Regions from separate parts of the Homo sapiens genome. Here regions 1 and 3 are each linked to region 2. The links come from fine-mapping of genetic effects on gene expression. A gene starts in region 2. Each other region holds a variant in brackets. All regions are shown on one strand. Distances are from middle to middle.

Region 1 (2,760 bases), 280 kb before region 2:
ATTAACTTTGTATAGATACACAATTTTTTAGCATCTAGAAAACTGATGAGTAATGAATCCAGCTGCCAGAGACTCCCTGATGAAGCTAACTAAACAGTGTAAAGATCAGTAAATGGACCAATTTAAAGCAGTTTGCTATTAGCTTAATAGTGTCAGAAATTCTAAATAATAATAGTAAAAAAGGCATAATTAATGGTGCATAAACCAGGGAGCTAAGGGATTCCTGTCTTATTCTTCACCAATTTCCTTTGTGAGGTTCACTGAGTAATTTTTGTTACTAATTAGTAAGAATAACTAGGCCAGGCACAGTGGCTTACGCCTGTAATCCCAGCACTTTGGGAGGCCGAGGCGGGTGGATCACCTGAGGTTAGGAGTTCGAGACAGGCCTGGCCAACATGGTGAAATCCCATCTCTACTAAAAATATAAAAATTAGCTGGCCGTGGTGGCAGGCGCTTGTAATCCCAGCTACTTGGGAGGCTGAGGCAGGAGAATTTCTTGAACCTAGGAGGCAGAGGTTGCAGTGAGCCAAGATCACGCCACTGCACTCCAGCCTGGGTGACAAGAGTGAGACTCCATCTCAAAAACAAACAAACAAACAAAAAGAATAACTAGCATTATTGAGTGGAGGTTAATATTAAGAGCCCTAACAACTGGAGAGAAGACTTAGGCTACAGTTGGCTACTAAATGTGATTGAGCATGAGCAAATGATTCAATTTTAATTATGTACTTGATGTGCAGTACTTCCTCTTTGTACGAAGAGTTAGCCACTCACACTTTATCACAATAAGGATTAAATGAAATTGCTTTGAGTTTTTAAAGTAACAGTTAAATTAAAACTAAGTCACCATGACAAAAATTGTCTAGAGTTTGTATTGGCATGAGTATGTGGTTATTCCATAAATGATAACCCATAAATGATACTCCCTAAGAGTAACAATGATAATAAAACTATTCTCTTGTAGTTACACGGCTTTTCACTTTTTTCAAAGCACTTTCACAAATATTAGTCAAACAAGTAGCCTTATATATGATCTGACCACTCCTTGTACAAGCACATTAAGTGTGGGTTTATTTTGCAAGGAATGCTCCTATCTCCTCCCTAGTGCTAATAATATACTCCATTTATATAGCTTTTTTTTTTTGGAGACAAGATCTCACTCTGTCACCAAGGCTGTAGTGCAGTGGCGCAATCACAGCTCACTGCAGACTTGACCTCCTGGGCTCAAATGGATCTCCTGCCTCAGCCCCCTAGTAGCTGGGACCCCAGGCACACCTAGCTGATTTTCACATGCCTGGCTGATTTTTGTATTTTTTGTAGAGATGGGGTTTCATCATGCTGCCCAAGGCTCGAGCAATCTGCCTACCTCAGTCTCCCACAGTGCTGGGATTTTAGTCAGAGCCACCATGCTTGGCCAGATTTTCACTTCTTTATTTTTTTTTTTTTTGGAGATGGAGTCTCGCATTGTC[G/A]CCCGAGCTGGAGTGCAGTGGCATGATCTCAGCTTACTGCAACCTCCGCCTCCCAGGTTCAAGCGATTCTCCTGCCTCAGCCTCCCAAGTAGCTGGGGTTACAGGTGCCCACTACCACCCCCAGCTAATTTTTTTTTTTTTTTTTTTGTATTTTTAGTAGAGACAGGGTTTCACTATGTTGACCAGGCTGGTTTAAACTCCTGACCTTGTGATCCGCCCGCCTAGGCCTCCCAAAGTGCTGGGATTACAGGTGTGAGCCACCGCGCCCGGCCGATTTTCACTTCTTTCAAAGCAATTTCACAGACATTAACAGGAGCAGGGCCACTAGGAATGATCTTTCCCTTCTCTGCATCAACCCAAAGACAATAATTCAAAAATGAACAAGGAAAAACTTATAAATAATTAGATGTTTTTGAAGCAGTCAGCCCATGATTCTTGAACTTGGATTCAGATCTCCCAAAAGTCTCAGAATCAGAGCAAACTCTTCAGGACAATAGCTGATATTCCCTTTTTTCTAGGCATAGGCTTAAAGAGGCAATAGAATAATTAAGGTATCTTCACTAGGGGTATAAAGGGAGAAACCAAATCTGTCTTGTTCACTACTATAACTACCTTTAAGTGGAGCACAAGGCCTAATGCATAGTAAATGCTCAATAAATTATCATTGTGATTAATACTAAAGGGAGAACATTCTTACCAAATGCTCACAGAATGTTCTGGAGCTAAAATAAAAATCTTGGCTGGGCAGGGTGGCTCACACTTGTAATCCCTACGTTTTGGGAGGCTGTTGCATGAGAGCTTGAGACCAACCAGAAGTTTGAGACCAGCCAGGGCAACAAAGTGAGATCCCATCTTTAGAAAAAATTTAAAAAGTAACTGGGCATGGAGGTGTGCACATGTGACCCTAGCTACTCAAGAGGCTGAGGCTGGAGGATGGCTCAAGTCCAGGAGCTTGGGGCTGCAGTGAGCCATGATCACACCATTGCACCCCAGTCTGGGTGACAGAGCAAGGCCCTGTCTCAAAAATAATAATAGGACAGGTGCAGTGACTCATGCCTGTAATCCCAGCATTTTGGGAGGCCGAGGTGGGAGGACTGCTTGAGCCCAGGAGTTCAGGACCAGCCTGGGCAACATAGTGAGACCTCATCTCTAATAATAATAATAATAATAATGTTTAAAATCTCATTTTTTATTACTTTTCCTCCACAATTAGTTTTTAAATGTGCTCAAAATAAAACAAAAAACATTAATGTGCTCACACCAAGTAGAACCTAAACAAAATTAGGGTCAC
Region 2 (2,760 bases):
TGGTGGCTCACACCTGTAATCCCAGCACTTTGGGAGGCCGAGGTGTGTGGATCACCTGAGGTCAAGAGTTCAAGACCAGCCTGACCAACATGGTGAAACCTCCTTTCTACTAAAAATACAAAAATTAGCCAGGCTTGGTGCCAGGCACCTGTAATCTCAGCTACTGGGAAGGCTGAGGCAGGAGAATCACTTGAACCCAGGAGGTGGAGGCTGCAGTGAGCTGAGACCGCACCATTGCACTCCAGCCTGGGCAACAGAGTGAGACTCCACCTCAAAAAAAAAAAAATTGATTGACTCTAACTACCTAGTATTACAGATGGGGAAACTGAGGTTCAGAGAGGCTAAGAGCCTTGCCTAATCCCACAATGGAGACATCAGCAGCAGAGATCCTCATCTCTAGGCTCCCAGCCCAGGCCCCTCCCTGCTTCCTTGTTCAGTATTATTTTTTTAAGACGGAGTCTCACTTAGTTGCCCAGGCTGGAGTGCAGTGGCATGATCTTGACTCACTGCAACCTCCGCCTCCCGGGTTCAAGCGATTCTCCTGCCTCAGCCTCCAAAGTAGTTGGGACTACAGGCGTGCATCACCATGCCCAGCTAATTTTTTGTATTTTTGATAGAGACGGGGTCTCGCTATTTTGTCCAGGCTGGTCTCGAACTCCTGGCCTCAAGCGATCTGCTTGCCTTGGCCTCCCAAAGTGCTGGGATTACAGGCGTGAGCCACCGCGCCTGGCCTTTGTTCAGAATTCTTTACACTTTCCACTGTGCTCACAAGGATAAAGTGCCAGGCCGCCAGCTGGAAGGCTCAGCCTTTAGCCAGGACTCGGCCCCAGACTCCTAAAAGTCAAGTCCATTGCTTCACTTTTCTGTACCTCCGTTTCCTCCTCTATAAAAGAGAGAATAACCCCAATATTACCAGGTGGGTGCGCTAATCAGATGAAGTCGCCCTGGACGGAAAGTATCCACAGCAATAAATGATTTTGCTTGAAACTGTCCCATTCTCATCCCTCTAAATGCCTTTTCCTTGGCCCTCCATTCTCCTGCTCGCTCCCTGTGCTCCACCAGGGAAGCCACAGAAGTTCACAACCAGAAGAAAGCCCATTTTACAGATAGGGAAACTGAGGCTTGGAAAGGGCAACAATTTACTGAAGGTCTGACAGCCCCGTTGGAACCCGGGGATTCCCCAACCCGGGGCATTCTCCCCGCCACGCCCCGTCCCGGCTGGGACAGAGTGTCCAGCCTCCTCGCCCTGCCCCGGCCTCCAGAAGCCCCGCCCCAATAGCACAGCCTCGAGGTTCGGAAAGGGCTGTTAACTCTTTGCTCCCCGGAGCACTCCTTGGCCTCGAGGGCGGGGTGAATTTGGAGGGGGTACTGGAGAGTGGGCAGAAAGGGAACGATTTTGCGCTCAGTATGGATTCGCCTTGGTCCCCCGGGATGACACGCTTTGACCCCAAAAGCCCAGGCGCCGCGCCTCACCTGCAGCAGCTGCTCCGTTCGCAAACTCACTTCCTGCTTCCGGCTCCCCCATTCATTGGGGCTCTGCGAACCCCGCCCCCCTTGGCCAACTGCCTGGCCTCGGGGTCCGGATGGGCGTCAGTACCAGCCAATAGACGCGCCAAGACGAGCTTCTCGGCTCGCCCGCTCCCGCCCCCAGGCGCTACGGGGTGGCGCGCGGATTGGCCCTGCGGGCTCGGCCTTTTGTCAGCAGGCCGCACACGCGCCGGACCGGGTACCGCTGTGCCCGGCCTGGCCGCGGCCTAGTCCCGGCAGACGGGACTGACGAGGTCACCAAGCCCAGGCCGAGACGGCGCGGGTGTCAGGGACTTGGGAATCCCCCTCCCCCAGTCCCGATCCCGCTTTCCTTTGGGGTTTCACCTCAGAGGACCCGACAGCACTCTTGCAGGTGGGAACCTACACAATAGGAGTAATGTGGCTCCACCTTCCTCTCGGGACTCGGGACCTGGGGGTGGAGACTTGGAAGTTGCAAAGCTCTCGGTGCCGGGAATCGGGGCTACGGTTGAGTGGGATCGGGCCAGGGCTGAGGTGGTCCCACCCGTGTAGGGGCGCGGAGAAACGCCTCGACTGCTTCACTGTACCACCACCCACCCGCCACGGGCCTGGAAGGAGCCGCTAAACATTCCCGAGCCTCAGTTTCCTTAGCACAAACAGGCTGGTAGTTTCCTGGTGCTTGCCAGATGCCTGATGGATGAGAAAGCCTCCTGCGGCCCCGAAAGGGAGTCCAGAGCAGAGGCGGGCCCGCGGTCCACTTTTACAGGTCTGGACGGACTCACGGGACCACGGTCTGGGTGGGGCATGCGGAAGGGCCTAGGCCAAATGGGGAGTAGTGGTGAGGGCCCAGGGTCAGACTGGGGGGTGGAGTGAGGTTGTCTGGGAGTCTTGGCTTTATGAACCGGAAAACCAGGCTAATAATTGAATCCAATCCAAGGGATATTGTAAGTTGTGATGTGTTGACTGCAGTGCCGCTCCCTATAGTTGCGCAGGGTGAGGGGCGTTTGGGTACTGAAATCCCGCACGGTCTCCTTGCTACGCCCGTGTCTAGGCCAGACAGCCTCTGCTTACCATAGACACCAGTTTCTCATCCACAAAGGTGCCCAAGGCCCTGCTTGACACAACAGTGTTACAAGCTGTTAGCTTTGATGATTACTTGTTATATGGGGGAGTTCAACAAGTTGGTCGGTGTCCTTAGGAAAGTCACCCCTCTTCTTTCCTGTGCCTCCGTTTTCATTGTCTTTAAAATGGGTA
Region 3 (2,760 bases), 27 kb after region 2:
GGAAGATGCCGTATAGGAAGAGAGGGTGGAAAATCATGAGGGCATTCGTCAGCCTCCGGTACTTTGCTGCTCAAGTTTCAGGAGCTGTTTGTCAAGTTTTGAGGTGTTTTCTTGATGCATCATCAGAAACTGGCCACACAAGTGAAAGACAGGAATGTCAAATTTATACCTTTCATACCAGGCAGAGTTTTCTGGAAGTGTGACGTTCACTTCCTGTAAAATAAACCTGTTACTATAAGGCTTGAGTACTTCCTTGGCTTCACCACAAAGGGGGCGTGGGTCCTTTGTGAATAAGGTCAGCACGGGCAGAGTTGTCTTAGAGACAGAGCAGTTTATCAAGAAGAGTCCAAGGGAGGATCTGGCAAGCTGCATGCTATTTCCTTGAAACCAGAGCATCTTAATTCCAATCCAGATGATTTCTCCCCTTCAAAATAATTGCAAGCAAGGTTAAAACTGTATTCAGGAACTATTCCAGCTGGCTTTTGGCTTTCTCTGATGTATACTCCTGAGCTTCACGCCGCCAACATCTCTGCTTCTGCCCCACACCCAGGCTGGGCTCCCTTTGACCTTTGATTGGTGACATGGAGAGTTAGGGACCCAGAACTGCCTGCAAGTAGTTCATACCCCACCCCTGCCATTGCCCACATTCAACCTGTCACAAAGTCCTGCCTACTATGTCCCCACAGCTCCCATCAACCTTGCGATCCCCTCTGCAACTGTCCAGAGAGGCAGGGCTGAGATCTAGGTTCTGCCTCTCCTGACACACAGACAGACAACTCTCCCTAGTTGTGACCTTGGGCAAGTCTTTTCACCTTTCTGAGCCTTGGTTTTCTCAACTATGAAATAAAAATAAAGAGGCTGGGAGTGGTGGCTCACGCCTGTAATCCCAGCACTTTGGGAGGCTGAGGCGGGTGGATCACGAGATCAGGAGTTTGAGACCAGCCTGGCCAATATGGTGAAACCCCATCTCTACTAAAAATACAAAAAATTAGCTGGGCGTGGTGGCGGGCACCTGTAATCCCAGCTACTCAGGAGGCTGAGGCAGGAGAATTGCTTGAACCTGGGAGGCAGAGGTTGCAGTGAGCTGAGATCACACCATTGCACTCCAGCCTGGGTGACAGAATGAGACTCCATTTCAAAAATAAATAAATAAATAAATAAATAAATAAATA[AATAAATAG/G]GCCAGGCGCGGTGGCTCATGCCTGTAATCCCAACACTTTGGGAGGCCAAGGTGGGCAGATCACAAGGTCAAGAGATCAAGACCATCATGGTGAAACCCCATCTCTACTAAAAATACAAAAATTAGCTGGGGGTGGTGGCATGCGCATGTACTTGGGAGGCTAAGGCAGGAGAATCGCTTGAACCCGGGAGGCGGAGGTTGCAGTGAGCCGAGATCACGCCACTGCACTCCAGCCTGGTGACAGAGAAAGACTCCATCTTAAAAAATAATAATAAATAAATAAATAAATAAAGACACTGGCCGGGTGTGGTGGCTCATGCCTGTAATCCCAGTATTTTGGGAGGCTAAGGCAGGAGGATCACTTGAGCCCAGGAGTTTGAGACCAGCCTGAGCAACATGGCAAAACTGTCTCTACAAAAAAGCACAAAATTTAGCCAGGCATGGTGGCATGTGCCTATAGTGCCAGCTACTTGGGGGACTGAGGTGGGAGGATTGCTTGAGCCTGGGAGATCGAGGCTGCATGAACCATGTTTGTGCCACAGCACTCCAGCCTGGGTGACAGAGTGAGACCTTGTCTCAAAATAATAGTAGTAATAATAATAAAGATACCTACCATACAAGACTGTTGTGAGAAATCAGTAAGATTACCCAGGAAGGGTGCTTAGCTCAGGCCTGGCTCATGGCATATGTTAAACACTCTCTAAAAGTCAACCACTATTAGTATCAATTCAGACTTCATCATTTCTTGGCTGGGCACTCAGGACAGCCCCCTTGATGGCCTCTCTGTCTCCATTCTTGCCCCTCCAATCTATCCTCTCCAACTGAGCCAGTGTCAAGCCCCTGTTTACATCTCGTCAATGGCACCTGCATCTTCTTTGCTGAGGGTGGGTCTTGGTCCATCTGAGATACTGATTAAAGTGCAGCTTTCTAGGATGTCCCCTCCAAGGATCCCTGCACTTGTCACAATGTCCCAGGCAATCTTGCGGTGCACTGACACTTGAGATTCACCCCTCTGCAAGCTAGTCTACATTCATTGGTGCAGGATTCAAGGCCCTTCAGATCCAGCCCCTGCCAACATTTCCAGCCTGATACTCCCTACCTCACACCATACCCTCCACTGACACCACAGCATGTGCCCCTCCCTCCTGCCCCACACTATCCTGTACCTCTGCTGTTCCCTCTGCTTCCCTGTCCCCCAGGCTGGGGAACATGCCTATTTTGGGCCAAATTGTGTCTCCCGACCCCTGCAAATTCATATGTTGAAGCCCTGGCTCCCCAGTACCTCAGAATGTGACTGTATTTGGAGAGAGGGCCTTTAAAGAGCTGATTTAACTTAACATGAGGCCAATTAGGGTGGGCTCTGATCCAATCTGATTAATGTTCTTATCAGAAGAGGAAATTTGGACACACAGAGACACCAGAGCAGAGGGAAGACCTTGTGAAGACACAGGGAGAATGTGGCCATCTTTGAGTTAAGGTAAGAGGCCTCAGAAGAAATCAACTCTGCCGACATCTTGCTTTTGGACTTTCAGCCCCCACAACTGTGAGAAAATAAACTTCTGTTGTTTCCGTGCCCAGGC

Alleles and levels. Alleles are on the strand shown, and positions count from the first base shown. SD is a standard deviation of normalised expression in the study named. Not every link is listed here.
For the expression in activated CD8 T cells of the gene that starts at base 1,505 in region 2, allele G in region 3 goes with a lower level than allele AATAAATAG (moderate effect, 0.66 SD a copy in Schmiedel 2018).

The links. PIP is the estimated chance that this variant, and not a neighbour inherited with it, causes the effect.
Region 1: its variant is fine-mapped to the expression of DPP3 in whole blood (TOPMed, PIP above 0.99).
Region 3: its variant is fine-mapped to the expression of DPP3 in activated CD8 T cells (Schmiedel 2018, PIP 0.95).

Annotation. Positions count from the first base shown.
Region 1 is chr11:66,763,353-66,766,112 of GRCh38, reverse strand. The region is part of intron 2 of TOP6BL (TOP6B like initiator of meiotic double strand breaks); the gene reads right to left. Among named protein-coding and RNA genes, the nearest start is that of TOP6BL, 20 kb to the right of the region's middle. The variant G/A (reference allele first, on the strand shown) is at 1,470.
Region 2 is chr11:66,479,179-66,481,938 of GRCh38, reverse strand. DPP3 (dipeptidyl peptidase 3) reads right to left here and starts at 1,505. Exons shown (of 18, transcript NM_130443.4): 1 at 1,474-1,505. It overlaps DPP3-DT (DPP3 divergent transcript), which reads left to right and starts at 1,690. Exons shown (of 4, transcript NR_120586.1): 1 at 1,690-1,900. RefSeq lists enhancers at 1,366-1,535, 2,112-2,679 and a silencer at 1,676-1,725.
Region 3 is chr11:66,451,870-66,454,629 of GRCh38, reverse strand. It overlaps the pseudogene LOC100505524. Among named protein-coding and RNA genes, the nearest start is that of PELI3, 14 kb to the left of the region's middle. RefSeq lists a silencer at 2,004-2,197. The variant AATAAATAG/G (reference allele first, on the strand shown) is at 1,173.